Linked DNA regions of Homo sapiens. The protein of the gene in region 5 interacts with the protein of the main gene of each other region in a biochemical or structural test. Each region holds a gene or a part of one and is shown on either strand. Other genes may lie near its edges.

What was found.
Region 1: the proteins of BLNK (region 5) and ERBB3 form a complex in vitro, tested with the Homo sapiens proteins (one large-scale study listed by BioGRID).
Region 2: the proteins of BLNK (region 5) and GRB2 form a complex in vitro, tested with the Homo sapiens proteins (3 studies listed by BioGRID and IntAct, with this or other methods).
Region 3: the proteins of BLNK (region 5) and KIT form a complex in vitro, tested with the Homo sapiens proteins (one large-scale study listed by BioGRID and IntAct).
Region 4: the proteins of BLNK (region 5) and GAB1 form a complex in vitro, tested with the Homo sapiens proteins (one large-scale study listed by BioGRID and IntAct).

The regions. Positions count from the first base shown.
Region 1 is NC_000012.12:56,096,140-56,101,190, reverse strand, and holds part of ERBB3 (receptor tyrosine-protein kinase erbB-3 isoform 1 precursor), read right to left. Parts: intron 4,689-5,051; coding exon 4,569-4,688; intron 4,444-4,568; coding exon 4,345-4,443; intron 4,147-4,344; coding exon 3,961-4,146; intron 3,407-3,960; coding exon 3,251-3,406; intron 2,692-3,250; coding exon 2,616-2,691; intron 2,433-2,615; coding exon 2,286-2,432; intron 1,544-2,285; coding exon 1,446-1,543; intron 1,354-1,445; coding exon 1,162-1,353; intron 1,018-1,161; coding exon 946-1,017; intron 131-945; coding exon 1-130. UniProt on the Homo sapiens protein: Tyrosine-protein kinase that plays an essential role as cell surface receptor for neuregulins.
Region 2 is NC_000017.11:75,330,742-75,337,647, forward strand, and holds part of GRB2 (growth factor receptor-bound protein 2), read right to left. Parts: intron 2,057-6,906; coding exon 1,959-2,056; intron 1-1,958. UniProt on the Homo sapiens protein: Non-enzymatic adapter protein that plays a pivotal role in precisely regulated signaling cascades from cell surface receptors to cellular responses, including signaling transduction and gene expression.
Region 3 is NC_000004.12:54,659,380-54,666,285, reverse strand, and holds part of KIT (mast/stem cell growth factor receptor Kit isoform 1 precursor), read right to left. Parts: intron 1-6,906. UniProt on the Homo sapiens protein: Tyrosine-protein kinase that acts as a cell-surface receptor for the cytokine KITLG/SCF and plays an essential role in the regulation of cell survival and proliferation, hematopoiesis, stem cell maintenance, gametogenesis, mast cell development, migration and function, and in melanogenesis.
Region 4 is NC_000004.12:143,435,942-143,442,847, reverse strand, and holds part of GAB1 (GRB2-associated-binding protein 1), read right to left. Parts: intron 4,850-6,906; coding exon 4,248-4,849; intron 3,047-4,247; coding exon 2,961-3,046; intron 2,770-2,960; coding exon 2,466-2,769; intron 1-2,465. UniProt on the Homo sapiens protein: Adapter protein that plays a role in intracellular signaling cascades triggered by activated receptor-type kinases. Plays a role in FGFR1 signaling. Probably involved in signaling by the epidermal growth factor receptor (EGFR) and the insulin receptor (INSR).
Region 5 is NC_000010.11:96,186,952-96,193,256, forward strand, and holds the end of BLNK (B-cell linker protein), read right to left. Parts: intron 5,142-6,305; coding exon 5,022-5,141; 3' UTR 2,220-5,021; downstream 1-2,219. UniProt on the Homo sapiens protein: Functions as a central linker protein, downstream of the B-cell receptor (BCR), bridging the SYK kinase to a multitude of signaling pathways and regulating biological outcomes of B-cell function and development.

The DNA.
Region 1 (5,051 bases), on a different chromosome or scaffold from region 5:
TCTCCTGGAGCTCAGCCTCAGAGCCTGTTACATGCCCCTCTGATGACTCTGATGCCAGGCATCCCCGTGGCATTGGGTGTAGAGAGACTGGACGGGGGCACCGTTCACTGCTCCCAGAAACTGCAGACTCCTAAGGAAGAAAATAAACAGAAAATAATGCAAGGAAATTTACATGATGAGGAAAGAAGAGAGATTTGTTTAGAAGGATATTGGGTTGTTCACTGCCTTTTTTTTTTTTTTTTTTTTTTTTTGAGGTGGAGTCTTGTTCTTGTCGCCCAGGCTGGAGTGCAGTGGCATTATCTTGGCTCACTGCAGCCTCTGCTTCCCTGTTCAAGTGATTCTCCTGCCTCAGCCTCCCGAGTAGCTGGGATTACAGGCACCTGCCATCATGTGCAGCTAGTTTTTGTATTTTTAGTACAGACAGGGTTTTGCCATGTTGGTCAGGCTGGTCTCGAACTCCTGACCTCATGATCCGCCCACCTCGGCCTCCCAAAGTGCTAGGATTACAGGCGTGAGCCACCGCACCTGGCCTTTTTTTTTTTTTTTTAAGAGACAGGGTCTTGCTCTGTCACCCAGGCTGGAGTGCAGTGGTACAATCTCAGCTCACTGCAACCTCTGCCTCCCGGGTTCAAGCGATTCTCCTGTCTCAGCCTCCTGAGTAGCTGTGATTACAGGTGTGCACCACCACACCCAGCTAATTTTTGTATTTTGGGTAGAGACGGGGTTTCACCATGTTGGCCAGGCTGGTCTCAAACTCCTAACCTCAGGTGATCCACTCTCTCTGGCCTCCCAAAGTGCTGGGATTACAGGTGTGAGCCAACTCGCCCGGCCCTCACTGCCTTCTTTTTTGCAGGACACTGATTAAACCTCAGAGGTTTCTAATGTCTTCCATACTACTCGTATCAATCTGATCCTAAAACCCAGCCTCTCAGCAACAGAACTTACCTGGCAAGACTCCCCAAGATTACCCTGGTTCATGGGCATGTATCCAGATGATGGACTTAAAAGGCTCTGGCTCTAGGATGAAAAAATAAGGAAAAGGTTAAGATGAAGGGAGAAATCTACATTCACCATGGGGGCCTTTGAGTAGTTAATCTGGGTATCTGTAGGGTTTGTGAGGGCTCAGGGTGCAAAGTGTTGGGTAATTAGAAGTTGTCTTACCCCACGTGGCCGATTAAGTGTTCCAACTGGTAGGCTGAGGGCGGAGCCCAGTGTGGTGGTTGCCAGGTTGTCCTCCTCTGCTTCCAAGTCTAGGTCTAGGTCTAGTTCTGGCTCCAGCTCTACTTCCTCTAGCTTCTTGTTTGTCAGACCATGGGGCTCTGGCCCAGGGGCTATTCCAGGCCCACTCTCTCTCTATATCGATAGGTGATTGTTAGGGGGAATCCTGGTTCCAGCCAACTCCTCCTTTTTCTAAATTTCCTTAGCACCTCCTACTCCCTACTCACCTTTATGACCAGATACCGTGGTGGGTCTCGGGCCATCCTGGTGAACTCATTGGCTAGTTCTTTAAAGGTTGGGCGAATGTTCTCATCAATCATCCAACCTGGAGATAAGATGTAGGAGGTAGAGACATAAAAGAGAATACATTCCATGGCCGGGCGCGGTGGCTCACACCTATAATCCCAGCACTTTGGGAGGCCAAGGCGGGTGGATCACCTGAGGTCGGGACTTTGAGACCAGCCTGGCCAACATAGTGAAACCCCATCTCTACTAAAAAGACAAAAAAAAATTAGCTGGGCGTGGTGGTGCACGCCTAAAGTCCCAGCTATCTGGGAGGCTGAGACAGAAGAACTTAAACCTGGAACGTGGAGGTCACGGTGAGCCAAGGTCACGCTACTGCACTCCAGTATGGGCAACAGAGCGAGACTCCATAAAAAAAAAAGGAATAGAGCCATAAGAGGAGTACAGAGGGAAGTCAGAAAATGGCTGCAGTCAGGCCGAGCATGATGGCTCACACCTGTAATCCCAGCACTTTGGGAAGCTGAGGCAGGCGGATCACCTGAGGTCAGGAGTTTGAGACCAGCCTGGCCAACATGGTGAAACCCCATCTCTACTAAAAGTGTAACAGTTATCCAGGTGTGGCGGGCGCCTGTAATCCCAGCTACTCCGGAGGCTGAAGCAGGAGAATCTCTTGAACCCGAGAGGCGGAGGTTGTAGTGAGCCAAGATTGATTGCACCATTGCACTCCAGCCTGGGTGACAATTGTGAGACTCTGTCTCAAAAAAAAAAAAAAAAGAAAAAAAAAGAAAAAAAGAGAAAATGGTTGGGCTCAGCAGGTAACTCACACTTGACCATCACCATGTAGACATCAATTGTGCAGATCTGGGGCTGTGCCAACCGCTCCCCCTTCTCTAGCAGGTCTGGTACTTCAGCCAATCGTAGCCCTGCATAGGGCTCTGCCCCGAAGGTCATCAACTCCCAAACTGTCACACCTGTTGCAGGAAGACATGGACTAGTCACTGGCAAAATAGTAGACATGGGCATGAAGTGAAGGGAAGGCAGAACCTGATCTAACACAAAAATCTGAAGTGCTTAGAGATTCTAAGAGGGGGTCTCAAAAGGTAAATTTGAAACTGGGGCCAGTGATGGTAGAGAGGGCATCCAGATGCACTGACCATAGCTCCAGACATCACTCTGGTGTGTGTATTTCCCAAAGTGGATACTCTCAAGGGCCATCCACTTAATTGGAGTCTGCGGATTAAAGATAGAGGTATCACAAGTTTATTTCCACAAATTTTCTTAGGATTTCCAAGTCCCAAATTCTTTTTTTTTTTTTTTTGAGACGGAGTCTCGCTCTGTCGCCCAGACTGGAGTGCAGTGGTGCGATCTCGGCCCACTGCAAGCTCCGCCTCCTGGGTTCACGCCATTCTCCTGCCTCAGCCTCCCGAGTAGCTGGGAGTACAGATGCATGCCGCCACGCCTGGCTAATTTTTTTTTTTTTTGTATATTTAGTAGAGACGGGGTTTCACCGTGCTAGCCAGGATGGTCTTGATCTCCTGACCTTGTGATCCACCCGCCTTGGCCTCCCGAAGTGTTGGGATTACAGGCGTGAGCCACCGCGCCCGGCCAGTCCCAAGTTCTTGATCATTATTTTATTTGTTGCCCTCTGAACTAAAATATCTGGCATCTGCAGCCTTCTCTCCTTGAACTTACCATGAAGCATCTGCTTGCCTCTGGAAGAGACCACTGGCTGCTCCCTATCCCCATGCTTCACTCCACCCCCGCCTCCTTACCCTTTGTGTCTCCTCACCTTGGCCTCACTGTATAGCAGCTGCTTATCATCAGGAGGCAGCAGGTCAGCCACACCAAAATCTGCCACCTGAACCTGACTGGGTGACTTGAGTAGCACGTTTCGGGCAGCCAGGTTTCTATGCACCATACCATGTTCCTCAAGGTAGTACATTCCCTGTAGGTATAGGGGAAGAAAGTATTCTTAAGGTTGGGGGAATCAGTCACTGAGATCTGGAATTCCCCCAAATCTTGAAGGTACCTCTCAGCAGTGGTCCCCAACCTTTTTTGGCACCAGGGACTGGTTTTGTGGAAGACAGTTTTTCCAGGGGAAGGGGAGGGTTGGTTTTGGGATGAAATTTTTCCACCTCAGATCATCAGGCATTAGTTAGATTCTCATAAGGAGTGCACAACCTAGATCCTTCACATGCACAGTTCACAATAGAAGTCAAGCTCCTAAGAGAATCTAATGCTGCCCCTGATCTGACAGGAGGCGGAACTCGGGCGGTAATGCAAGTGATGGGGACTGACTGTAAATACAGATGAAGCTTCACTCGCTTGCCTGCCGCTCACATGCTCTGTGGCCTGGTTCCTAACAGGCCATGGACTGGTACCAGTCTGCAGCCCGGGGGTTGGGGACCTCACCTCTCAGAACTTCAACCTTCTCACTTTTTCCTGGCTGGCCCCCAGACAAGCAGTTCTTATCACAGAATTCCTCCAGGCTTCTCTCACCTTGGCAATTTGTACTCCCCAGTTGAGCAGCAGCTGTGGCCCCAGTGCCCCCCGGTGTTGTCTCACATGATCCAGCAGAGAACCCAGAGGCAAATATTGAGTGACAAGCTGCAGAGATGACCCTGGGCATAGTCCCAGCAGCCTTACAATGTGGGCATGGTCCAGGCTGCCAATGGCCAGCATATGCTAAGAGACACAAAAGGTATTATCTAGGAAACCAACAGGTTCACATACACTCAGCATGTGCACAGCCAGCCCAGGCCCCCCCACCCCCAACATTCTGGCTAACATAGTAGCTGCTGAGAAGCACAGGACCCTGCTTCTACATGATTGTATCTAATATTGTCCTCTCTCCTAGCGGCATACAGAATTTCCTTCACTTACATCTGTCACAGCTTGAAAACTCTGCCGTCCACTCTTGTCCTCAATGACTTTAATGCAGACTGGAATCTTGATTGATTCACCCTCAGGGATCCACACTCCCTGGGAAGTTTGGGGCAGGAGTTGGCATAAGGTCATTCTCCCTAGGTCAATCCTATGCAAAAATCTTTCACCCCTTTGCCCTAGATGCCTTCCCCACCTCTCCAGAATTCCTATGGGTCACTCACTTTGTGCACAGTTCCAAAGACACCCGAGCCAAGCACTTTAAGCTTCCTTAGCTCTGTCTCTTTGAAGATTCTGGCCAAGACTTTGTTAGCCTTCTCACTGGGGTCCAGAGGCTCTATGCTCTGAGGAGCAAATGGGAAGGAGTTACTCAGGAAAGGCCATTCCCATGTCCCACTCCAACCCGCTCCTCATAGGTGAATGCCAAAAGCAGCACAGCTGAAAGGGCAGGAAGAGGAAGCACCGTTAGTCCTGGAATGGATTATAGGCATATTGAGGTACAGACCCTGAGAACTGAGGAAGTTATTTGTGCTCATGAGATCAGGAATCAAAGGGGTTGGGTTTTCCCTTTGATGGAGGAGCACAAAGTGGGGAAGGGGACAGCTAGGGAGAGTTGGTAGTACTATTACCACCTTGAGTACCTTTTATACAGTGCTCTGTGCTTTCCAAAGCACTTTCACATACATCATCCCCCTTTACCCTTACAG
Region 2 (6,906 bases), on a different chromosome or scaffold from region 5:
AGCAAGGGCGAGAGCTAAGGGGGTGAGGGGAGAAGGCTAATTTTCCAATATAATTCTTTACTACATCCCGTAGGCTCCCATCCATATGCATTTAGTGTGAAAAGCACATATTTGGATCCACCCCTCAAGCATATACAACTCATGCTGCAGCACTAATGCCAACAATCATTTTGTAGTCTAATTTGTTAACTTGAATGCTGCATTAGCTGACATGGTGCTACATTTTATGCTTCCCTCTTCCTCCATAACCCCTGCTCCCCACCCCCACAAACAAACAAACAAACAAACAAAAAAACAGGAGGTGGTAGGATGTGGAGGAGAAGGCCTGGTACTGACCCTGACCCTATACTCATGAACATCCAGCCACAGAGCAGCCCTATACAACAGCAACTACGTCTGCAAGGCCAAACACCTACATAGGCACAAGCATGGTCTTTGTTAGCAATATGGTAGACCTGAATAAATAAGGGTTTTTAAGTTGCTAGTTGCCTTTTCAGAGCTCAGAGTGGCTGAGCACTGCCCACCCTTTGGGCAGAGTCTGCAAATAACAACACAGCTGAGCCTGTGCTGGGTGCTTCTCCATCAATTCTTCTAAAGTTCTTCATAGTGGGGACAAAAGGTCAAGGCAAGGGAGTGACTGTCCCAGTCAGCCTGGCAGTAACTACAACTTTCCAAGGAAGGTAGCCTTTCCTATCTTTCCTCAACAGTCAGATTTAAATGCCTGTGTCACCCGAAACACTGAAGAAAAATAAGAATTTCGAGCCACAGGCATGTCATATAAGAAGTGTAGTATGATGTTCTGTTGAATTCCCTTTCAATCTGAAAATATGAAAACAAAAGGGAACTGAAGTCGATGTTGTGTTTGGATCTAATGAAGGAGCCAGCAAACAATAATGGCCTTCTGCCCAAATCTGCCCACAACCTAAGACTGTTTTTTAAATTTCTACTCGATTGTTAAAAGAAAATTTTTACAAGGAATATTTGACAGGATTGTATGCAGCCCACAAAGTCGAAATTACTTGCTATCTGGCTCTTCACAGAAAAAGTTTAGCCAACCCTTGACCTACAGTTTCTTTTGAGGACGACTGAAGGAAACAGAAGTACACAAATTATGTGGCTTATATGGGACCTGGGGAGGATGTGCTGTGATCCAACAGGCCCCTCCCACTCAAGATGCGACAAGCCACCTGAAAGTCTCCGCCACCAGCTGCTGTGAAAGCAAGTGGACAATGTCCAAGGGCATTCTAGTCTGAGCGTGGAAAGCCTCAGCTCCCCTGACACACTTGTAAGGCAAGCCAGCAACTGCTTCTGTGCTAGGAGCAGGGCCTGTGAATGAGGGGTGGGTGAGAACGGGAGGACAGTGGTCTGCAGGGGCTCTCAGGGGTCCACTATGTTGCGTTATTAATAAAATCGTGACAAGGGTAGCTTCTGAAAAAAAATTAAAAATATTCACTGCTCCCAGCAGCCTGGAGGACAGCATATTTTGTTCTCTTGTAAGTAGGAACACTAAGATGGAGGGATAAACATTTATTGAGAACTATTAGATGCCAAGCACCGTACTCTGGGGATACAAAGATATTAAGATACCGTCCCACAGCATTAGCACATATAAACACAAAATCATCTAAGTACCTTTTCTAAAACTCAAAAAAAATGCAGAATTATAAAACACATCTGGCTCTAAGACATATTTAACAGAAAAAGAATTACGGACCTGCACCAACTATCGTTTTATTTTTGAAGATCACTGACAGTTATTATCAATCTAAAACATATAATATTATTGACTATGATATATTATTATATACTATTAACATGCACAATCAATATCCTTTGTTAATTCCCTAGAAACGTGAATAAAAAGTATGACATCCATCCCAGTGATCTCAATTTTAAAAAGAGTGTTTGAAACAAGGAGGTGGGTCCAACCCTTCCAAGACTAATGGAGCTTAACTTACGGATGTGGTTTCATTTCTATGTAGTTCTTGGGAATGAAGCCGTCTTTTCCATTAAGCTCTGCCTTGTACCAGTTCTGATCACATTCTTCGTTCAAAACCTGAAAAGAAATAAGACAACAAAAAAACCCAATCATTTCCTTTTCCCTTTAAAAAGATAGTTACAAGACAATTATGCTATCTTTTAGGTCTGTGAACGGTTTCACTCGAAGTATTATCAGTTATACGGATATAAGACTCCTTTTAACTTCAAACAACCAGCATTATGTTAAACTCTGTTAAAATGAAACAGAAATTATCTCTGAAAATGAAAATTCAGGCTCCCAAACATCTGGAATGAAACCCTCAGTAAGGAAGGAGAAAGAAGAATGGCAAGTATTAGTTGTTTTTTTTTTTTAAGACGGAGTCTTGCTCTGTCGCCCAGGCTGAAGTGCAGTGGCGCGATCTTGGCTCACTGCAACCTCCACCTCCTGGGTTCAGGCGATTCTCCTGCCACAGCCTCCCGAGTAGCTGGGATTACAGGCGCATGCCACGTTGCCCAGCTAATTTTTGTATTTTTAGTAGAGATGGGGTTTCACCATGTTGGCCAGGCTGGTCTTGAACTCCTGGCCTCAGGTGATCTGCCCACCTTGGCCTCTCAAATTGCTGGGATTATAGGTGTGAGCCACTGTGCCCGGCCAGTTTTTTTGTTTGGTTTGGTTTTTCTAAGAGAGAAACCTGGAGAAGAGGTTCTGGAAAATGGCAAACACATAGGAGAATAAGGGAGCCTGACGAAGACAAAGTCTACTTTCTGGGAGAGAGAGGTGTCACAGCAGAACTAAGCAGCAACAGAACCTTTTATTAGACTCCTCTAGAGATCTTCCAACCGACCTCCAGAATCTACAGTGATACAGTCCTGGATCCCCTCATGGCTTCTCTGGGTTACCGCAAGTACGGGTCACCCACCAAACAGCTCCAGAACACTGCTGCTTGTGAGGACAACCATATGCCCTCGTATGGGAAAACTATTTTCAGGAAAAAGCATGGCAAATCCTACTCAGTTCAATAACCCAAATGCCACATTGTATTAAAGTTAGATAGTGCTGAAAGCATATCAACCAGCAGAATTCAGGCAGATGCCTTGGAAATCCTGGAACTGAACCACTGCATTCTACAGATGTAAAAAAACAAGATCAATGGTCAACCCAGGTTACGAGGTAGTGACCCCACAGAGCTAACATCATGCCCAGACTTTCATATTTCCAATGACCGTTCTCTCCAATGCTGCCTCTTGAATTGCATGTACCAGGCCATGCATAGGCTAGGCCATGACGCTGTAATGTGTAGAGTAATACAGTAGTCCTCCTTATCATGATGGATACGTTTCAAGACCTCCAGTGGGTGCCTGAAACCGTGGATAGTACAGGACTCTAGATATGCTATGCTTTTTCCTACACTATACACATACCTATACGTTTTATTTTTTTTTAGATTTATTTATTTATTTTTTTTTGAGACAGAGTCTCGCTCTGTCGCCCAGGCTGGAGTGCAGTGGCGCGATCTCGGCTCACTGCAAGCTCTGCCTCCCGGGTTCACGCCATTCTCTTGCCTCAGCCTCCCGAGTGGCTGGGACTACAGGCGCCTGCCACCACGCCCGGCTAATTTTTTGTATTTTTTAGTAGAGACGGGGTTTCACCATGTTAGCCAGGATGGTCTCGATCTCCTGACCTTGTGATCCACCCGACTCGGCCTCCCAAAGTGCTGGGATTACAGGCACGAGCCACCGTGCCCAGCCGATTTATTTATTTTGCCCAGGCTAGTCTTGAACTCCTGGACTCAAGGGATTCTCCTGCCTCAGCCTCCCAAAGTGCTGAGATTACAGGTGTGAGCCACCATGCCAGTCCTACCTATAAGTTTAATTTGTAAATTAGGCACAGTAAGAGATTAATGATGACTAGTAGTAAAATAGAAAAGTTTTAACAGGCCAGGTGTGCTGGCTCAAACCTGTAATCCTGGCAGTTTGGAAGGCTAAGGTGGGAAGACTGCTTTAGCCCAGGAGTTTAGGACCAGCCTGGGCAACATAGTGAGACCCTGTCTTTATATTTAAAAAGTGTAAAAGAAAAGTTATAACAATATACTGTAATAAAAATTTATGTGAATGTGTTATCTCTCAAAATATCTTTTTTTTTTTTTTTTGAGTCAGGGTCTTGCTCTGCTGCCCAGTCTGGAGTACAGTGACACCATCACGGCTCATGGCATCTCAACTTCCTGGGTTCAAGCTATCCTCCCATTTCAGCCTCCTGAGTACCTGGGACTATAGGCACTTGCCATGTTGCCCAGGCTGGTCTTGAACTCCTGCGCTCAAGTATCCTCCTGCCTCAGCTTACCTAAGTGTTGAGATTACAGGTGTGAGCCACTGCGATTGGCCAAAATATGTTATTTATATGTTGGATTGCAACTGGCCGCAGGTAAGGGGGGACTAGTATATACGGAGCAGAACAGAATCAGGTACAGCGTGAAAGCCACCCTATGAATTCTAGACTTACAACAAAAGGCAAAGGGCAGAAGGCATAAAGTTGGTAAAAGATAAAACAAAAATGTGAATACAACCCCAAAATGGTGGGCCCAGGAAAATGTTGGCTAGTACAGTGGTAATCTACACTGCATAACAAAGTTCTGAGAGGAAACTGGTAACATTCTTTACAAAATGATTTATTCAAGATGTTGAACAATGCTGTACTCGTAGCCAATCAGAAGCTGGATTGCTCTAAAGTGAGTGCTGTCTGTGTACTGCCATTCAAAGTGAGATGCAATAGAAAGGGTAGATAAGAATGACAGATGATCGACAACTAGCCAGGCTGCATTAATGACTACGCTTTCTTAACAGAGGGTATGCCCTGCAGAGCTTTGCAATGCTGGTGCTTATCTGCTATGCTTACCACACTCTGACTGCAGGTGCCAGACACTGGGTTTCAATGCTTAGGATAAGGTGATAAATCCTGAAAGAGCTAATAAATATGTGTAGCAAACTCTCAAAAAAAATTAGCTAGTGGTAAATCCCAGTGTATTCAAAGTTTCCAAGAGTCACATAAATATTGATAGAGTATTGATGAAAACTTTCTTCTAGTCATCATTTTGTTTCTCGTAAAAAAATCACATCAAAGACTGGAATGAGATAAAACAATATATGCAAGGTACACTCATAATTTTTAAGTCTTCATTTTAAAAACACTGCATTGTGCTGCAGCCAGCAATGGTGCTGTATTGATAGACAATTATAAAGCACACACCAAGGACAAGTTTGAGGAGGGAAAGTGCGCTTGAACCCTGCCGGGCCACCACCACCTGCCCCTGTACTGGCAGCACAGAAAACTCTGAATAGCCTTTGAGAAAAGGAGCTACTTTAAAAGTTATTTAAGGCCAGGATTCTGTTATCTACCAAAAATAAGGTCTAGAAGGAAAATGTGGTCTAATAATGACCTTATAAAGCATCATCCTATAGTAATAATAAAAACCCCACAGGCTTATAAACAATATTTATTATTTTATTTCAGAGACAGAGTCTACGTTGCTCAGGCTGGAGTAGCTGGGACTACAGGTGCGTGCACCCATACCAGCTATGAAGAGTTTTTGAAAATGTCTTAACTCCTGAAATGGTGAGGTGTGTCTACTTTTACTGTATACACTTGTTCTTGGAAGACAGAGAGTCAGACTGACAAAGAGCTGCTTGTAACCTATTTGTGCATCAAAACAGAACAAAGTAATCATTAGAAAGGGACACTTTTGATTTGTGACCAATAACTTTGCAGAAAAAGATAACTCTATTTACCTGCCAGGAGTTCATAGAGCTACACTCTCTTCTTGTCACCTTTACCAAGACAGAGGCAAATCCCTCTAAAAAGTGTCCCCTCCCCCAACAAACACAACTCCAGGGCAACTCCTAGATTTGACATCAACTTAGAACTATGGCTGTCTACAGAACAAAAATTATTACTTGGTGTTTAGTATGTTTTTCTCCCCCAGAAAGAAGGAAAATATGGAATTAATGCTTTTAAAAATGTAATTTTTTTTTTTGAGAGAGTCTTGCTCTGTTGCTCTGTCACCCAGGCTGCAGTGGAGTGGCATGATCTCGGCTCACTGCAACCTCCACTTCCCGGGTTCAAGTGATTCAAGTGCCTCGGCCTCCCAAGTAGCTGGGATTACAGGCATGCGCCACTATACCCAGCTGATTTTTGTACTTTTAGCAGACACGGGATTTCACCATGTTGGCTAGGCTGGTCTCATATTCCTGGCCTCAAGCAATCCACCTACCTTGGCCTCTCAAAGTGCTGGGATTATAGGCGTGAGCCATCATGCTGGCCAAAAATGTAACATTTGAGTACATGAATGGTTACGATTTTGGTTATCTGGAAAATTCTAGTATCCAGAATATCACGTTATCAGATAGCCCAGGTATTGCTGCACATACCTCTAAACCTCTTCACTCTAGAATTTCAGAAAAAGCTTGGTTCTGCCGGAGGCAAAACACAGGATGAACAATGCAGCTGCAACCCTGAGCCAGAGACCAGGCCTTTCAACCCAACTGCTCCACCTGCACTGGGAGCTTGCACACACAAGCCCTGAAACTGGAGTGATGTAATTAGATGCTTAAAAATTAAGTTTTATTCAAATGTTTAAGTATACAAAACAGCTACTGAAGTGTCGGGTTAAAAAAAAAAAAGAAAGAAAAAGAAAACAAAACAGCAAAGAACACAAATGAATGTTGAAGAGCTCGAGGTGGCAGAGACCAGAAGCATCTGAGGATGAGGCTGCACCTACAAAGATTGTTTCATTTGCTGTGGCTTTAGGTGAAAGCTCACATCCTTCACAAATAATTTTTATTTTATTACTGTTACTATTTTTTTTTTTTTTTTGAGATGGAGTCTCGCTCTGTCGCCCAGGCTGGAGTGCAGTGGCACAATCTCGGCTCACT
Region 3 (6,906 bases), on a different chromosome or scaffold from region 5:
ACAAAAAAAACAAAAAACAAAAACAAAAAAATTTTCAATTTCCTTCTGGGGCAATTTAAATGACTCTCATTTTGTTCTACTTTTCACTCACACACTAAAAATATTTGAAGACTGTCATTCACTAAACCTTCCCTCACCTTATCTTCTCCAGGCTTAATAAATCCAATTTCTTTAAGTTGCTTTCAAAGGACCTATTTCCCAAAGCTTTCGTCAATTCTATGTCCTCCTCTATACCCAGTATGGCCATTTTATTCTGAGAAAAACAAAAAACATACCTTAAACATGGCCTAATGCAGAGAAGAATACAGGATTCTCTTCCTAGTATACACTCCTTTTCATGAAAACTTACTTTTCACCATAAGACTGGTTCACAGTTAACATACCATTCTTTATAATCCCCAATGCTACCGTAATATTATAGAGCCATGTTTTGTGACTTTGGGGTTTAGTTTTATTTCTTACAGGGACCTGACCCTAAGATTTCATTGACGTCTTCCCTCCATGTCTGTGAAATTGAGTTTCAAGAAAATGCAGCTCACAAATAATCAATGAATAAACCCAGCAGAGTCCAACATCATATTCTCTCCCTCAAATAGGCCACCCCTCCTCTTGGCTTTATTTCCACTAATTCCATAGTATCAACAATACTCCCAGTTACCTACACCCATGATAATTCCAGTTCTCCTTCCCCTCAATCTCATCAGTGCCTGACACACAGAAGGTGCCCATAAATACGCCGAATGAGAGAAGACCTGCACCTTTATCCTCCTCGTGTCTCTTAAGGGCGCTTTCTTTCCAAAGCATGTACCCTAATACCCAGGTCCACTACCCCTTCACTCAGAGATAATCTAAAGAGCCCATCTTCTGCCCAGCTCCCCAACATGTAGCTCGCAGCCATGAGTTTAACCCTCCTAAATAGTCTCCACGAAAAATCTCCCTTAGATACTTACATGCAAATGTTCATTACAGCATTGTTTGCAACCCAAATGTCCATCAAAGGAGGAACAGGTAAACAGAATGTGGTCTATACATACAATGGAATATTTTTCAGTCTTAAAAAGGAAGAAAATTCTGACTTATACTACAATAGGGGTGAACCTTGAGGATGTTACGGTATGTGAAATAAACCAGTCAAAAAACAGACAAATTCAGTATGGTTCTGCATTTGCGAGTTACCTGGAATAGTCAAATTCAGAGACAGAAAGTAGAATGGTGGTTGCCAGAAGCTGGGGGAAGGAGAGGGGAGCTGCTCTTCAATGGGTATAGAATTTCAGTTTTGCAAGATGAAAGTGTTCAACAGTATGAATGTACTTAACACTATTGAAATATACATTTAAAGATGATTAAGGTAGTAAATTTCATTTTATGTATGTTTTACTATTAAAAAAAAAAAAAACAGGCCAGGTGTGGTGGCTTACATCTGTAACCCCAGCATTTTGGGAGGCTGAGGCTGGGGGATCGCTTGAGCTCATAAGTTCGAGACTATTCTCTACAAAAATAGAAATAAAAAAATTAGCCGGTGTGGTGGCACACGCCTGGGGTCCCAGCTACTCAGGAGGCTGAGATGAGAGGATCACTTGAGTTCAGGAGGTGGAGGCTGCGGTGAACTATGATCGTGCCACTGCACTCCAGCCTGGCAACAGAGCAAGACCCTGTCTCATAAATAAATAAATAAATAAATAAATAAATAAATAAATAAATAATAAAAACAGACTCTCCCTTAGTCTTGGTTGCCCACAGCAAGGGAGTGTCCAAGTTTTAAGGCAGGGCTTGGCCTCTCGCTTCGTCAGACTATTGGAACAGGCTGGGGAGTATGTCTAATTGGACAGAATGGTGGAACAGGCAGCCCTGGACTAGTATGCAAAGCCTGGGGGGCCACTCCTGGGTCAAGTCCACCTTAGCCTTGACTTCAAAGCATTCTTCATAACCTAGACCAAACTCAGCACTAAATACACATTCCCTCCATGCTCCTTGAGGCTAGTAAGAGGAGTCTTACCTTCCCAGCCAATTCCCTACCCCCAGCCATCATACCAATAGAAAGGTTTGATAATCCTGAAGTAAGATCCTAATGCCTTGTTCCTTGTACTGTAGTTTTTTTCAGCTGAAGCCACAACTACACTGCCCTCTTCCTTTAAGGTTCAGAAATTAATCTCAAATATTATCTCCTATGTGGATGCTCTTACTGATTCCTGATCTCTATTACCTGCCCATCAAGATTTAAGCTCATCTCCTTGAAAATCCTGCCCAGAGCACTTTACACTTAAGAAAACCAAATTCTACTTCGAATCAGGGGCTGTGCTCTTGCCCTGGCCCTCCTCCACCCCCAGCCTGTAACGTAGGACCAAGGCATGGGGATTGATAAGCCTTTGTTAAACTGAATCCAAAATGTTTACTGACCATTTATGTTCAAAGCTTAGTGTAAGTGCTGGAGAATAGAAAAGATGTTAAACTAATACTTACTGAACACTAACCGCTGTGTCTAGCCTGGGGCAATGGACAAGTTCAGCTTGGTCCTTGAACTCCTAGTGAAAGCAGTCATGGAAAAGCTCCTTGACTGCTTTCATGGACCCTAGGTGAACTACATGTACTTATTCACCTACAGAAAATGGCCATTTGCAGACATTCCCCCAACCTAAACTTTTATCAAGAAATTTGTATCTCTTTTGGTGGAAAGTAACCCAAGAATACGGCTAAACAAAGAGCCAAGCAGATAAACATGCATTACCACTAATTAACAACTTCATCTTAATACGAAAAAAAAAAACCACTCTACATATTCTGTTTACACGTTTTCAATTTTTTTCTAAGAGGCAAAGCTGAAAGGGGAACATAAGAAAATCAGCCTGATAGTGGAGTCCACACACTTCCTCTATGCGGGGCACTATGCTAAGCATATTACATGCAGAATCTCATTTAATCCTCGCAGGGGCCCTATGTCATCATCTCCATTTTACAGATGAGGAAATGAAGCTTAAGGAGAGGTTAAGTGTCTTGTCCCAGAGCACACAGCAGGGAAGAGGCAGAACTGGAATAAAAATCCAGCGTGTCAATTTCAGAGCCCAAGCTCGTAATTAACTGATGCCACATGTCCTGAATAATAATTTGGCTTAAACCTTAAATTTTGCAAAAATGTTGAAAACCTGTCAGAAAGGTATGCATGGGAAGATGTCTAACAAAAGTGTGTCATAACCAAAATGTAAGCATGAAAGCTAAAACATAAGATGAATGGGAAAAGTACCAGACACAAATGTTATGTTGGAGAATCTTACAAGATGTGTAGTTTTTTTTTTTCCCCCCTGGAGAAAAAAAAAGTTCAAGATCTATTCAATCTCTAGGACTAGTGATTTCCTAACTCTTATCAAAAGCTAAATAAAACAAGACCAAAAAAATTAAAGCTTATTTTTAAAACTGTCGGCCAGGCATGGTGGCTCATGCCTGTAATCCTAGCACTTTGGGAGGCCGAGGCAGGTAGATCACCTGAGGTCAGGGGTTCGAGACCAGCCAGGCCAACATGGTGAAACCCCATCTCTACTAAAAGTACAAAAATTAGCCGAGCATGGTGGCGGGTGCCTGTAATCCCAGCTACTCAGGAGGCTGAGGCAGGAGAATCGCTTGAACCCAGGAGGTGGAGGTTGCAGTGAGACGAGATTGCGCCATTGCACTCCAGCCTGGGCAACAGGGCAAGATACTGTCTTTAAAACAAACAAAAAAAATGCCTTTCTAATCTTTAGGGCAATCATCTTAAAAGAGTAGGCATTATTCCCATTTTAGGGACAATAATAATTCCTGTTTTACAGACGATAATTATGGCTAACACATATTGAGCCTGTACTATGAGGCACCACTCTAAAAGTTTTACATGTAGCAACACATTTACTGGCACAGAGAGGTTAAGTAATCTGCCGAAAGTCACAGAGCTAATAAGTGGCAAAACTAGGATGGACAATGAAAGCTCAAAAAGGTTAAACAATTTGCTCTAAGGCCATCAAGCTGTCAGTCATGAAGCCATCAGACCAACACAAGGTAGGCCGGCCTGTCTCCTCCCACTTGTCATCTGCCTGGTCCCAGGGGCATATTTGGATTCCTGCACTCACCAGGGCCCAGTGGGGAATGCCTAAGGGATGGCAGGATAAAGCCCTAGAGCCTAATGCAACCTGAAGAGCACAGGCCTCATCTACAGGGGCCATGACCTTCAATTCTTAAAGAGGAGACAGAAATAGAGATCTTGATTTAAAAAAAATCTCTAGATTGTTTAATATCGCCTCAATGTTTTCTAAAAAGCATCATGTAGGCCAAAGAAAACATGTCTCCTCGGGCTATCAGATTACAACTGCTCTTTACTTATTAAGAGTCTTAGGTCAAAAGATGAGCTGTATGATCACATCCAAAAAATGTCAGAAATCAGAGCTGCTGGGCCAAGCCGACTCAACTCAATTCCTCTCTATGACTCAACTCAATTCCTCTCTAAGTACAACAAAGATTTACACTGGATTTGCCCTCCAGGCAAACTTTTACCTCCTCTAACTCTTCCCCAGGCCTTCTTCAATCCGGACTTATAGCTGTGGCAATATCTATTCAAGTTACCAAAACTGCACATGAAATTTGCATATTTGGATTCCTGCAAATGTCATTCAATCTCAACTTTTAAAAGTTACCGCACATTAATGCAGCAAAAGAAAGCATTTCCCACATCCTAGCCTGCCAACTCTTAAACTACATTCATTCTGAAGAAAAAGCTGCCACAGCCTTGACCACTACCTTGAAGGGGTCCCCACACTGCAGGCCAGCTCTGAGAATTCCGCTAGAGACACCGAGGTTCATTTCCTCGTGTCCTTCTTTAATCAGCTGGAAGAGACTTGAGGAAATGAGTCAAAACCCTAAGGGTAACTTCGAAGGGCTGTCAACAACAGCAGCAAAATTCATCACCACCACAACATCTGTACATAAATGTTCTCCAAGGGAAGCCCGCAGAATACTTGGCACATTTCTGATGAGAATTTCTTTTGGGAGAAAAAATGGCTTTGGATGGTAGATTGTCATTATTTCTCACCATGCTATCCAGGGTAAATAGCCAATGACATCAGCCATTATTGGGGGTGTTCTCTTTCACACCTATGCACAAGACCATTTTTATGTTTTGGAGTGGGAGATGGATTTTTAACTGGCTTGCATCATCCTTTTAGAAACAGCTTACCTTCATTTCTGAGGGACGCTAACTGGAATGAGATAGCTAACAACTAAGCCAACATACCACAGGGTCAAATGCCTACAGCCCTTCCTCCAAGCTAAAATTTAATTAATCCTCCCTCCACAAATAATCCGCTTTCATAAGACACGCAATTCTAAATATTTTTCACCAAAATTGGGAAGGTAGTGACATTGGCCATCCTGTATTCCCAGAACTTCCAACAATCCCTGGCACATAGTAAAAACTCATTAAATATTTTTGAATGAGTCTTACAACAGATTCTGGTGAATCATGTGAATGGCTATAGAGCTGGGCACATGCAGCCAATCTCATCAGGCTTCACCACTGATGATTTAGGGCTTATCCTTAGCCAGTTTCTCCAGCTGTAAAATGTTAGGGGTAATAATAGTACTACTTCCTAGGCTCATTGAGACTACTAGAAATAGGTAAAGCCCCAAGCAAAAGGCCTGGCACACAGTTTCCAACTGAAGAGCAACAACTATGTACACCACACATGTCATACGAAACTTAAGGCCCATTAGAAAGCATGCTATAAATGCATAGCATTACATGATTTACAGAGTCATGAGAAAAAAAATGGGAATGAGTGGGGGAAAAAACAGAATAGGGATAAATGAATTATCTGGGGTCTCTTATTTCCAGCAGGATAATAATTTAGAGTGCCTTGTGTCCAGCTGCTGAGAATGACTCCAGCCTCACACCTGCAGGAACGAAACGGGGAAGGTATGATTCACTATTCCTAGCAGGTTCATCCTGTTAGGCACAGGAGCTGTAATACTTGGGGGGCGGGGGCCCTCAAAGGGCAATGCAGAGGAATATATGGGAATTGAAGGGCAGTAAGCATAAGCCACAGCTCCTTGCTTCAGTCAGGGGCAGACCGGTCAGATGCACCCATACTCTATGACTTCCCTGTGAGCAGGAGAGGCAGAGGAATTTCAAAGAGGCAGACAGGGGCCAGGGGAATAGTTAAAAAGAGTGCTGAGTCTACACTCAGAACATTGGAGGAGAATTCTGGACCCAAAGGATCCTTCATGATGCAGATGCCTCCTTGTACTCTGGAGGACACTGCGTTTCCCAGAATTTAAGCAACCTGCCCTAAGCAACCTGGCCAAGGGCACGCAGCCAAGAAATGGCAGAGAAACCGAGAACCCAGGGGACAGAGCAAGGCTTTGTCGTTACACCACACTGCCCCCCCAGGAGACAGACCTTAAAATTCCCTTTGCCAAAAATCTATTGGGGAGAAGAAAACCATTGATTCTTTTAATTTTTTAAAAGGGAGATATTCGATGTGGTCTTTCTAGTCTCCTACTAGGTTCTAGTTCACATAGCTTAACTGATATTAAAAAGGTCAAGGCACAAAAACATAAAGACCAGATGTGTTGTTTTAAGCTAGGTGATCAAATCCTCCAGAGAATCCGAACACTCCCTCGTGACCCCTGCTGACCCCTCCTGCTGCACAGGGGTCCAGATGCAAGGCCTCTCTGCCCCCCACAGGAAAGCCCTCACAATAGTTACAAGTCCAGGACGCTGCAGACTGCGCCTGGAGACTTTATAGAGAAACTGACCGGTAGTCGACAGTCTCAAAACCGTTCATTGCGCCGCTTCCTTTCAAGCGCTTGATTCCAGCTAAGACTCACTTTCTATCCTTACATCATCAGGGTAACCTTAAAGGTTTGTTTTAAAAAATGACCTGGGAG
Region 4 (6,906 bases), on a different chromosome or scaffold from region 5:
ATAATGTGGCCAACGAACTCACAATTGTCTCTGAACAGTTCAGTTAAATTTTAAAAGAATGAACACAATCTCCAGAAATAAGAACCTACTTTATTCTGTTCTATTAAGTTCTTTTACGTTAAAGAACTAGTGTGATTAGTCTCTAGTGTACTAGAATAATAGTACTTTCACTAAATACATAGGGATGTATAATTATAAAATATGTAGTATACATGATACATAGTATATATTCTGATATATACATAAAATATATATCATAATAATGTGGGATACATGAGTGATATCAGACCTAGAGGATACTAAAAGCTAATCATTAATTGATCTTAGGTCTTTTCTAACTTATAAACAGTGGTGTTTCCTGATTTCATATTATGCTTACCACATGGAATCACAACTGTTGAAATATACTGGAGTTTTCAAACTGTGCTCTACAGAGCTCAAGGGGAGAAAAGAGCAGCAGAGGAGCAAGGGAGGTAGGACTTAAAAGCTTTGTAACCTCACCCAAATCTTACTCCCTCCACATTTATGCGAGACCTCAAAATATAAAACTGTTAGGTTTGGAGTTAAAAAGTAGAGATCTGCCACTAACATGCACTCGTTACTGGAAAATAAGGAAAGCACCAGTTTAACATTAAAAAAGATATTTCAATATTTCAAAGAGTTCATGACACTTATATCTCAATCCTTCAGTGATCTGTATGAACCAATTATAAAGCTATACATGTCCAAACATATTTTTGCATATTATATGCAAAGAAAATGACTAGTAGTTGTCTAAAATAGATTTAGAGACAAAGAAAAAGGAAACAAAAGGAAGCATTATCCGATAGAAAGCCTCTGATGCTCACATCCTTTCTGAGATCCACACCGCAATCACAGCCCTGCTGCCAGGGCAGACTGGGTCGTCGTGGGTGTGACACACATAGACCAATCACATCATCTCTAAGCAATCTAAAGTGAGTAAATAATAAGTAAGGCAATGAGAAGCTGATGCAGAAGCTGCAAGGGCACATAAAAAGCAGCTAGGAGGCAGAACTGAGGCCATAGAAGGGGAGCATTGGAGGCCAAAGCTCTTGGAAAGCAGAATCCATTTAAGTAGAGGATACAGAGTAAGAAAACAAAAAAGAATCAGAAAAGAAAACAGAAAAGAAGGGAAGAATGTGAAAGAGAACAAACCAGATGCAAAGATTTCCCATAAAACAGAAATGCACAGAGAGAGCAGGACACAGCAACAGTCCCCTAGAATTGCTTCAGTTCCTGATAACCTCCTTGTTGAAGGAGGTTAACCTCCTGTTGAAACGAGGAGGTTATCCTTACTTACAAACAAAACCAAATCTTTTTTCTTAAGATAGTCTGAGCCTCAGTCTCTTTTCCTCACAACTAGGACTTAATTAGAACTAATATTAATGATCTAAGCCCAGGTTAAGGAGAAATTGATGCCAACATTATGTGGTCTTAAAAAGCTACATATAGCACATGAGACTTTTCAAATGTGCTGAAACACCCTAATGTAAGCCAGATATTGTATCATTCATCACATTTACATTTATGCTAATTTACTTGGTTGTCAAGATTAAGCCACACTAACAGCATGGTGCAACAAATCAAATTGTCTGTGTTTTAACAACTTAAACCCCAATTTAAAAAACCTGGGTAGGCATTACCCAATTTGGCTGAACAGTTTCTTTTACAGACTTCTTAACAAACTATGTTACCTTAGAACTTAATGTTACTTATGAAGGCCAGCATGGAAAAAAAAATGACAGACTAGAAGCATGTATTACCCCAGCAAAGGCAAAGTAATTTTTAAGAAGTTGTTATATGAACAGAATGGAAAGATTATACAGTCTCACTGTTCTTAAATAATTATGTCAAATACATTAATAATCTTAAGTCTGATTTGATATTATATACTCTGGAGAAGAGGTTACTAAATAGCAGCTGAAGGCCATTATCTAGCTTGCAGAAGTGTTTGGGTTGGCCTGCAATGTTTTCTTAATAATTAAATTAGTTGATAGAACTTTAAAAATTGAGAGATAATACATATAAAATCTGAAATCTCTGGCTTTTCCTGATATACCAGAAGATTTGCCTGCATGGGTGCATCATTTCACAAGTCAACAAAGGATTGTAGCAGTGTAGGTTAGTTACTCCCATTAGATGGGGCTACGGCAGTCCAGTTTCTTCTAATTCTCCCCAGTTGTCCGCTCACCCCGTGAGTATTTCAGCTTGTAACCTCTGCTCTAGAGATAGGAGACTTATAAATATCACCTCACATCAACATGTGATATCATAATTGTTAATTTATAAATGGCAGTACTGCTTTGCTTAAATAACTTGATGGCTATGGAACTATGAAATATTTCAGAATTTCTAGTCCAAATTCTATTTTGGATTTAATGGCAGTTAAAGATAGATCTAACTTGGCACTCCCCAAGCCTTTTACTTTGCCATGCTCTCCTTACCTTTTCTGTCTGGCTTGAGGTTCCTATCCACGGGGGGTGGTTCACAGTCTGCAACAGGAACTGGCCTTCTGGGAGGGGTTTTTGGGCTGGACCTGAAGCCCATATGAGCAGGAGGAGGAACTTGCATTCCAAATGAGGAAAAATCAAATGTTCCTGGAGTCATTGGCACATAATTTGCTTCCTGAATTGGTTCTGTAAAACTGCTGGAATGTTGTCGTGGTGGTGAATTGGGATTCATTGGGACGTAATTTTCATCCAGTTCTTCACTTGAAACACTTCCCACTGTCAACACATTTTTGACTTTCTAAAACACATATATATTTCTTTTAATAAACAAAAACTCTTGTCACACATGAAAACACAATTGTAAGTCACACTCATTCATATGGATCTCAGCGTACTTTTATTTCATGATATCACTTAGTCTCATGGCACTAATTATGAAGATTTAGACAATGAAATACACTTGATGATGCCAAGGTCAATTATACTTACAAAGTGGTTATGGAAGCCTTCAAGTGAACTAGATCTATCACTTGGAAATGCTCGTGGAATATCATAGCAGTCTTGAGAACTAGCATCTAAAATAAAGAACAAACTATCAACATTTATTCCCATCTTTGCCAGCTCTCAGGGTCATTGGGATGACCTATTATCTTTCTCTCATTATACATATGCATACACACATGCACACACACAGAATTTTAAAAAGGATGCTCATAGAACTGTGTCTTGAATTGGCATATTAAACCACTAGAAAATGCAGACACTCACTCATATGCTAACCAATACCAATATCTAATTTTGAGTGTGAGTGAATGTCTAAGTCTGGGATAAGATAGGTTATCTAAAGATGAAGAGAAACACCTCTATTTTCTCATCGTTTGCACCACCTTGGGCATAACTTACATCTCACTAACTGATAACCAGGTTATACAGTCACTTCAAGAAAGGAGTTAGATACTGTTATTGAATGGTGAAATAAGTACTGATTTAAGTAATAATCACAGATACATTAAAATCTTGGAGATAGCTGAGGAAAACTCTACCACAAAATACAGAAATTTTAGCACATACTGTTTAGGATATGTGCATTAAAAACTTTAGCTTTCTATTTGTAGGACTTTGAGAATCTCAGAGAATCACCCAGACTCATTTTTTTCTTCTCCTCTCAAGGTCTGTAACTTTTGGATACAGACTCTAGGAGACAGTATAGGAAAGTATACTCACTAGCAATGAGTGAAGTGGGTAGTGATAAGGGGAAAGAAGATTCAGCTCTTTAAACACAAGTAAAAATCAAACAGCATAATGGCTTGACTGGAACAGAATATCACCTGTTAGACACAACATAAAAACTGCTTATATAGGAAGGAAGGAAATAGAGCCCAACAGATGTGACTTAGAAGCGGCCATAATGGCACACAAATACAGGAAAGGGTATGACTCGGAGAGGCTTTGTGGCTGGTCCATTTCCTGCCCTTCTGTCCCAACAGAGGGCCTATCCACCCAGGATTATAGAAAGTGGGAGAGAGAAGGGCACACTTCCTGAGGCAGGAAGGCATTACTAAGGCCATACTTCTTCAGGGGTGAGAAACTCCAACTCTTTTTCCCTTCCAGCAGAGCATGAATGCAATATACCCTTCCAGGTAGCTGTAGAGCTGGAAAAAAATGGACTGTATTTTGTAGCATAGTATATTTAACTACGCTTAAAAGAACAAATATTCAGAAAAATCGATTTTCTATCATTAACCTCTAATAGAGAAGAAGTCAACTAGAGCTGACCTTTTCGCAATTTGTTTAAATCCACAGTGGAAATGGTATTACTACGTGAAGGCGACATCCCTGCTGTAGGGATACAGTAACTACTGTCAGTGTCTGAGGCGGTGCGTGGGATACTACACGTTTCCACAGGAGATCGGTCATGAGCTGGATGTGGTTTCGGTGGCCGAGGTGGAGGAATATCTGGAATAGTGTCTAGCTTTGATGTCTGTCCCAAGGTTCCTTCTGGAAATGTTCGTGGAATCTGATAAGTATTACCAGGTGTTGGAGGAATGTCATAACTAATAGATACATGCCTCATTTGAGTCTCTACACTCGATGTCCCAGATGGGGTATTAAAAACATAGAGTTCTCCATCTGCTTCAGTACTTGATGGAGACACCTTTGGTAAAACATCATGGGAATAACTCCTGGGCAGGTTATAAAGGCTGGAGTCAACTGAAGCAGATGGGGCACGTGAAGGTGGAGAGTCGTATATCATTTGCTGCTGAAAAAAGCCATTCATTCCATGTTTGCTCTGGGAGGAAGCAGGATTTTTATGAGAAGGGACGTTATCATTGCAGTCTGTTTCAGAAGAGGTGGATTTTGCAGAATCAGCATGCGTTCTAAATAAAAATTGTTAATGACAGAATAAACAAGGTGGAGACTAAGAATACATTTTTTATAAACATGTTTATCGCTAAGCAATCAAAAGATAGGGCTTTTCTCATTAGATTTTTTGTGTGATCCATAGGATTTAAAGCACAAATGTTCTTTAGCCTTTATGATTATACATCAGACAACAAAACCGCCACCACAAAACCAAGAAAAGCATTCTCTCTAATTCTGTCCTATATCTGCCCACACCCCCAACTCCACCTATTAAATCTGCACATAAAAACACAATCCCTGAAGCACTGGAATTAAACATTACAAAACTCTGGGAAAGGTAAATGATTAATGCATAGACACAAGGAAAAGCATTTCCTCTGAAGAGCATGCAAAAACCTAGTGCTAGTACAGTTTATATAGTTGATCCATTGGTCTTAAACCTCCCCACGGCAAATTTGTTGTTCCGTAAAATTAAAAGTCTAATGATTACTTGGTATTGAATAAGGTCAATGTGACTTACAAGAAGGTAACATCTAATTGTTTTCATATATCTTCCTTTCCACTACTTTTCTTTAACAAACATTTAGCCAACATTATAAAGAGGATCGAAATACGTGATACAGAGTTAACCAACTCCAAACAATAACTCACTTTGAGAAATCTCATTAAAGTACATTTATGAACATTTTCGGTCTCTGCATTTTGAGGTATCACAAAATTTGGGTATACGACAAGATGAAGCTAACAACACAAGCACACTCTCACTTCCTTAATGCTAAACAAGATACCTGAACTACTTCTGCATGTTGTCCAAAGTCCTGTAGGAATTTAAACAATATTTCTTTAAATAACTATGATTTTTTTTTAAAGGGCTTACCTTCCCTGACTTCTTAGTAACATGTGGCACTACGCTCTGTAAAGTCTCCCCCTTTACTATCAGAAAACCCACATTGTGCCACATTGTGCTTTTGTTTTCTCCATCTTAAAAAGATCTTAAAACCCTTCTCCCTTGCTGATTATTTCCTTGTTTCACTTACTGGCTCCTTCCTCCCGTCTCTCTCCCTGGGAATGGCCAACAGAGTTCAGTCCTCTAACCTTTTACCATACACGCTATTAGAGATCATCCTCCTTTTTCAGAACTTCATTTTCTTCTCTGAATGCTGACAACTTCCATCATCTTACCAAATTCCAAGTCCCATATTCTCAAACTAATATTTCTACTTGGTTACTCCAGTATTACCTTGCTTGTGGGCCTCAAATAGAAATCCATTTACTTCTTAAGTTGACTGCTTTTCCTGGCTTGCATTGAAAGAAATGACTTTATCCAGATTCTCCAGGCTTAAAACTCAATCAGCTTGATTCCTTCTCTTTGATTTCCAGTCACGCAGGCACCGAGCCCTTCTTCTTAGCCGCGTACTTATTCCCTTGTTCTATTCCCATTGCCACCATCCCAAGTTCAGGTCCCCATCCCTGCTGAGATCTACATGACTGAACTCTCCTTAGTGGAATTTCCTCTACTGTCTGCCTCTTTCAATCTATTCATGGGACCAGACTTCTATAAGATCAATATTTTCAAAACACAGTTGTTATACCACTCATGTATTCAAGAGAAAAACCTAGTAAGGGCCCCTACAGGGTGTGGGAACTATAAGGCCTCACACTAATCCACTTGACATTGAGGTTACTAATAACCTGGCTCCACCTTCTCCATCCTATTCTTCAAGAGGCTCTCCTCCTCATTATCTTCCTCCCACCATGCTTGCTCACATCTCTCCTTTCCCTCAAGCTATTTTTGCACAAATTACTAATGATTTTCTTCTCTCACCAACTAGGTGTAGTTCACATTCCATTCTTCCTATGAAGCTTTTGTTTTCTCCATCTTAAAAACACTTGCACTGTCCCTTTGTGGAATTTCTAATGCACCTATGCATATTCTAAAATTTGTACTTCATTTAATTCAAATGCAGAGTTAAGAGAAGCTAGAGGAATTATGAGTAATAAGTAAAGCTCCTTGCTCTGACTAGCTTACAGTTAGTGAAGAGTAAGTAAAAACATCGTTTCTAACACTGCG
Region 5 (6,305 bases):
ATGTTTGGCTATTTTGTCCATGGATAGGCCACAGAGGCCCAGGAATCTCATGATATTTGATGTGAGTTTCTGTGTATATACATAAATGAATTTTTCCTCAGGCCAAAGACCCACAGTTCTCATCAGATTCTCAAAGAATTTTGTAACTACTAAAAGATTAAGAACCACAGATGTAGAGAAAATATTTGAGATTTTCCTAATACACAATTATAATTACTAAGTGTTCTAAAATATTTATAGATGGGTTCATTTAAAGAGTTATCCACAGATCACTTTTTATGTCTGCAAAGAAGATTTTGGTTAGGGGACTAGGAGGTAATGTTTATCAGGCACCACTAGCTTACTTTAGCTCTTGAATCATTACTGGAAAAATATTGTTTACCCTTACCTAGAAATAGAGGCTGAGTTATATGGTGTCTTAAGACCATTTTGAAGGAGAGGAATTCAGTCCTTTTTTAAGAACATGTCTCAGGTAGTGCTGGTTTTGCCTCACATCGCTGAATTCTGTTCTCTGGGACTTTCTTTTAGGCAAGACTATCCCAGCTACTACAGTAAGAGTAGTTTAGCTCCCAGAGTGCAAGGTCTCCAAACCATTGCCCTGGCTAACTTATGATAACACACAATCAGGCTTGTGCTGGACACAGGCGTAGCTTTTTCATGTCTATTGTCCTTTTGAACAAACTTGAAAATCTTTCCTACTACCATAGCTGCAATCTACTTTTCAACAGAAGACAAGAACTGGGGTGTGGTTTTTTTCCTTCTTCAGCTGCTACACATGTACTTCTTGACTAGTGTCTCCTATTCCACCACCTAGCTTGCCTGAAAATTTCTTTATGCAAAACCATTTGTTTGTCAGCCATTGAGACATTGAGATCACAGACAGGTGTTTGAAATTTCTTATTTGTTTATTTTGAGACAGAGTCTCACTCTGTGGCCCAGGCCAGAGTGCAGTGGCATGATCTTGGCTCACTACAACCTCCGCCTCCCAGGTTCAAGTGATTCTCATGCCTCAGCCTCCTGAGTAGTAGCTGAAATTACAGGCGAGTGCCACCATGCCCAGTTAATTTTTTCTAGTTTTAGTAGAGATGGGGTTTCCCTGTGTTGACCAGGTTGGTCTTGAACTCCTGGCCTCAAGTGATCCACCTGCTTCGGCCTGCCAAACTACTGTGATTATAGGTGTAAGCCACCATGCCCAGCCTCTTAAAGACTTTTCTAATCTCATCAAGAATACCACTTGCAGAGGTGGGCTTTAGAGAAGCAGGTGGGATCACCCTCAGTGGACTCTTCTGCAAGATGAGGGAAAAGACTGGCATGTTGGATTGGGTAGTTCTCCCAGCTTTGGGGAGGAGTAGAGCCCTTAGCAGAGAATGGCCTATCTCTCAGAAATTCTCCCAGCCTCTGCTCCAAGAAATCCACCACGCAGTACTGTATGTCAACCAACTGAGGATTAGTATAATCTTAACAGCTATGCTATTACCTAGCTGGAGTAGGACACTTGGAGGAGGAGAGGAAGAATGAGGCATAAGAGGTTGTTATAGAGCCAGGGTTGCTGTGGTAGCAGTGGGAATTAATGAGGATTTACTTAAATAGAAAATAATTCCGTGTAACACTGAGGAAAACTGAAGCTAGAGAGCTGATGCCACATACTACAAACAGATGCTTTGCTTTACCAAAAAATTACCCCAGTTTCCCAGTTTAAATTGTGAGTCATCCTTTCTAGTACATTCAAAATGATTCAATGGTTTTCCTAAAAGGAGAAAAAAAACCTTTCCATACAAAATTTCCCAAACCCCTATATACCTGAATGTAAAAAATGCATATAAATTTTATTAGGTTTCTATGGCCGCCATAATAAACTGGGTGGCTTAAAAAGCCAGAAATTTATTGTCTTCAAGTACTGGACACTCAAAGTCCAAAATCAAGGTGCCACCAGGGCCATGCTCCCTCTAAAACCCGGAGGGAAGTCTGTTCTTGCCTCTTCCTAGCTTCTGATGGTTTGCAGGCAATCTTTGGTGCTCCCAGGCCTACAGATGCATCACTCCAGTCCCTCATCTTCATGTCGTAATCTTTTTTTTCAATAGAAACCATGCTACTTTATTAAAATGCCAAGTTTTAGTTCACATGTATATTTTTGTCTCCCCACCATTTCCATGTTCTGACCACTGCTACTACTATGTCCTATCATAACATTCCATACATATTTAAAACCAAGCAAAGGGTGAAGTTCCATCTTTAATAATGAAACAGGCATTTTGGACAACACATTCTTGGCAATGGAACCTGGACAACATTTATTAAACACAGTAGGGAAAGTTCTCACTCTGCATTATAGAAAGGACAGCCAGATATTGACTGTTAGAGAAATGAAATAAGATGGAAAAATGTTAACAAATTGTTTAAACTATTTTCTAAAGAGACTTCCTCCACTGCCAGGATCTTGAATAGTCTCCTGGTCAGTTGTCCGGAAGCAATTCTTCACATAATTGATGAACTTGGCTTCCACTTTGGGAAGAGAACCACCTTTTTCTATACTTGCTTGCATTTTTGATTTAATGTCTTCTACAGAACTAGGCCCTTTTGGTGTTTTACGAGTTTTTTCCTGTTTTTTGAAGGATTCTTGTCCTTTTAATCTTGGTGTTGATGATGGGTTTGAGTGTTTTCTATTCTGATTTGACTTTTGTGCATTTTTGGCTGGAGTATGTAGATTTCTTCAATGGTGCTTTTTCTTCAGTTTCCTCATCATCAAAATCATCATCATCATCATCATCATCATCATCATCATCTTCATCAGCAGCAAGTTTTACTTTTATTCTCTGGAATCTTGCTACCACCTCCAGGGACAGATCACTTTCCAGATATCCTTAAGAGTTTCACATCCTCCTCCTCTTCATCTTCTGACTCTGCATCTTCCTCCACAGCTACTAAATGCTGTCCACTAATATGCACTGGCCCTGAACCACACTTCAACCATAAAAGCACTGGTGGTGTTATTTCAAAGACCCCAAGGGAAACTGTTGGCTGTACAGACATTTTCAAAGGTGCCAGTGTTATTTAATTGGACTGCCTTCATAATTCATTGCCTCTGCTTCAACAATGTGCAGTTCATCCTTTGCACCAGCCCCTAAACTGACCGTTCTTAAGGATAACTGGTGCTCATTTTCATCATTATCCACCTTAAAGTGATCATCTTTGTCGGCCTTTAGTTCACAACTGAAAAGATAGTTCTGGGCCTCAGGGGGCTCACGTCCATGTCCATCGAATCTTCCATCAGGTGGCGGCACACACTTAGGTGGGAGAGAAAGCAGACGGAGATAAACGACCACTGCTCAAGAGAACAGCCATACAGGATGGAATCACGCCAGTAGTATTGTTCCTGTGTGTCTCTTCATATAGTCTTCTCTCTGTGCCTGCATCCAAATTTCCTAATTTTATAAGGACACCAGCCATTGTATTAAGGCCCACCCTACTGACCTCATCTTACCTTGACTATATCTGTAAAGACCTCATTCCCAAATAAGGTCACATTCTGAGATATGTGGCCTTATGGATTAGGACTTCAACATATCTTTTTGAGGGGACCACAGTTCAATCTGTAACATAGGTGGCAATTATGAAAGTTTATGACATTTAAATATACAATTATCTTTAGAAGTGAGTCATGAGTTACCCTGAAATTATTACCTTCTGGCCTTTCAACATACTTTCATAGATTGCTATCTTATGCAGTGGCCAAGTGTGTTCCCCATTTAATTATTAGACTTAATTAGCTGCTTTATCACTTCACTGCTGTCTGAAGTACACAGTAGAAATATATGACAAAGTATGATACATTTCTGGGATGATCTAAGACCTTGGACCTGATTCTCCACGATGGTATCTCTTTTATTCCTTGGTGTTCACCAATGTCTGCTTTTCTGCTCTTGTTTTGTGGGATATTTCTCTAGGAACTGGCTTTTAGTCTAGCTTTGCTGTCATTCCACTTTGAAACTTGATATGGTTTGGCTGTGTCCTCACCCAAATCTCATCTTGAATTGTAGCTCCCATAATCCCCACGTGCCATGGGAGGGACCTGGTGGGAGGTAACTGAATCACGCGGGCAGGTTTTCCCATGTTGTTGTGATAGTGAGTAAGTCTCATGAGATCTGATGGTTTTATAAAGGGCAGTTCCCCTGCACATGCTCTCTTGCCTGCCACCATGTAAAACATGCCTTTGCTTCTTCTTTGCCTTCTGCCATGATTGTGAGGCCTCCCCAACCATGTGGAACTGTGAGTCCATTAAACCTCTTTTTTTTTTTTTTTTTTTATGTAAATCACCCAGTCTTGAGTATGTCTTTATTAGCAGCGTGATAATGGACTAATACAAACCTCATATCAAGTTTAGGTTCTATTTGATAGACATGTAGATCAAAGAGGGTATAATTATCTTTAGTAAGCAAAACTAACAGCATAATCCTAGACAAGAACTTATAGAAAGTTCATATCCATATATATATATATCCCATGGTTGAGAGTGCTCACAAAAAGGAACCATTACATCCTTCTTGCCTATACTTACAGATATCATACATTACCTTTAATACCTTATTTTCTACAAATTAAAATTTTAACCAAGACTTAATTGTCAAGCATTGGCAGTGGAGAGCCCAGCTACATTAGTGTACCAATGATCATTGTGGAGGTTTAAATTTCCAGCCACTTTGTTTTATGCAAGAGCATTATTTTCTTATTTTGATAATATACTTTACACTTATTTTTAAAAATAAAAATATTTATTTGGAAAATATTAGTAGCATGATAACTCAACCTCACCAGATATTAACAGTTCATCAGGTCAGGCAATAGAACAAGTCCACATGAGCTTCTTAAAAAGAAATGGATGACCACTTCAATAGCTGACTCCATCTTCCATTTTATTACTGGATGATTCATAATCCAAAATATGAAGTTTTGGGACTTTTTCTCAAAAGGAGAAACTTTGGGAAAGTGTCTGAAGCAATGGTATTGATCTTTTTTTTCCCCCTTTATGAAACTTTAACTGCATACTTCAGTCTGGTGGAATCTTTTGTGTTATTCTGACTGTCAATAAGAACCAAAGGACTATGTTGATGATTCCTGATGATTTCAGCAACACTTCCAAAGTACTAGAGGAAGAAAACATAGATGAATTATACTTTGGCATTTGTGTTAAATTTGAGCTCCACTCCTCCCATCTTCTCTCATTCTCAAGTTAGTAAAAGTTATTACACCCCAGCTGACATTCTGCACAAAAAAATCTAGTTTAACAAAGGCTGTAACCTTCAAGGTGGCAGACCTTGGACTTTGCTGTATTAAGTACGAAGAAAAACACACTGACAGCCTCAATTAGCATAGCTACTTAGAGAGATTACTTCACTGAGTTATGATAAAATATTATAGTATATTGCTTTTTATTTACCGTTAAATGTAAAACTATCATACAACGCATTTTTCTACATTCTTTACAAAACATAGATCATCTCTTACTTTGCACAAGTCTCAGATACAAGAATTGATGTAATAAATTAACCTTAGAAATTTAGTACAAGGAAATAGTCATCTCCTAAACAAAATTATGTTTTGTTTTCTTTTTTAAACAAATAAAGAAAGCTTTATAAACCTTCATATTTCCATTTTTACTTGGTTCCTGGTAAGCTTAGAGTTAACTTAGTGCCTAATTAATAATGAAATTTCATGCTAGGCTCTCTCCATACATACTTATTTTTCCAAATTTTGATCCTTGTTGTCTATGGGTTTTAATTTAAAATTATCACAAATTTTGTTCTGAAAAATAATTAAAGTTTTGAAGGAAAGATAAAAACAAATGTAACACAGATCATGAAATTAAATTCATTGAGTATACAAAAGTGCTACAAGTTCACACTCATTAAATGTATTTAGAATCACTTTTTAAAAGTGGTGATTGTTTTACAACAGTGCCATGAGTTTAGCAGTTACTATCAATTGATTTTATTTTCTCGATTTTTTAGATAAAGACAAACATCCACAGTAAAATTTTTAAGTGTTTATTAATTGTTTGGATGACTTCCAAGTAGCTACATATTGAATAAAGTAAAATATTCAGAATATTGGCCAACATTTCCAAATGAAATACCAGTTGTCTTTTAGATAATTGGCTAGCTGAATATTCAGTCAGGGAGAGAGGTAAGAGACAGGGACTTTCAAATACCTTTAGTCTTTATTCTTTACTTCCTATTCAATCATTCAGCCATCTTGCAATTGCCAAAGAAATTCTTTCATTATAAATCCCATTAAACATTCATTCTGCT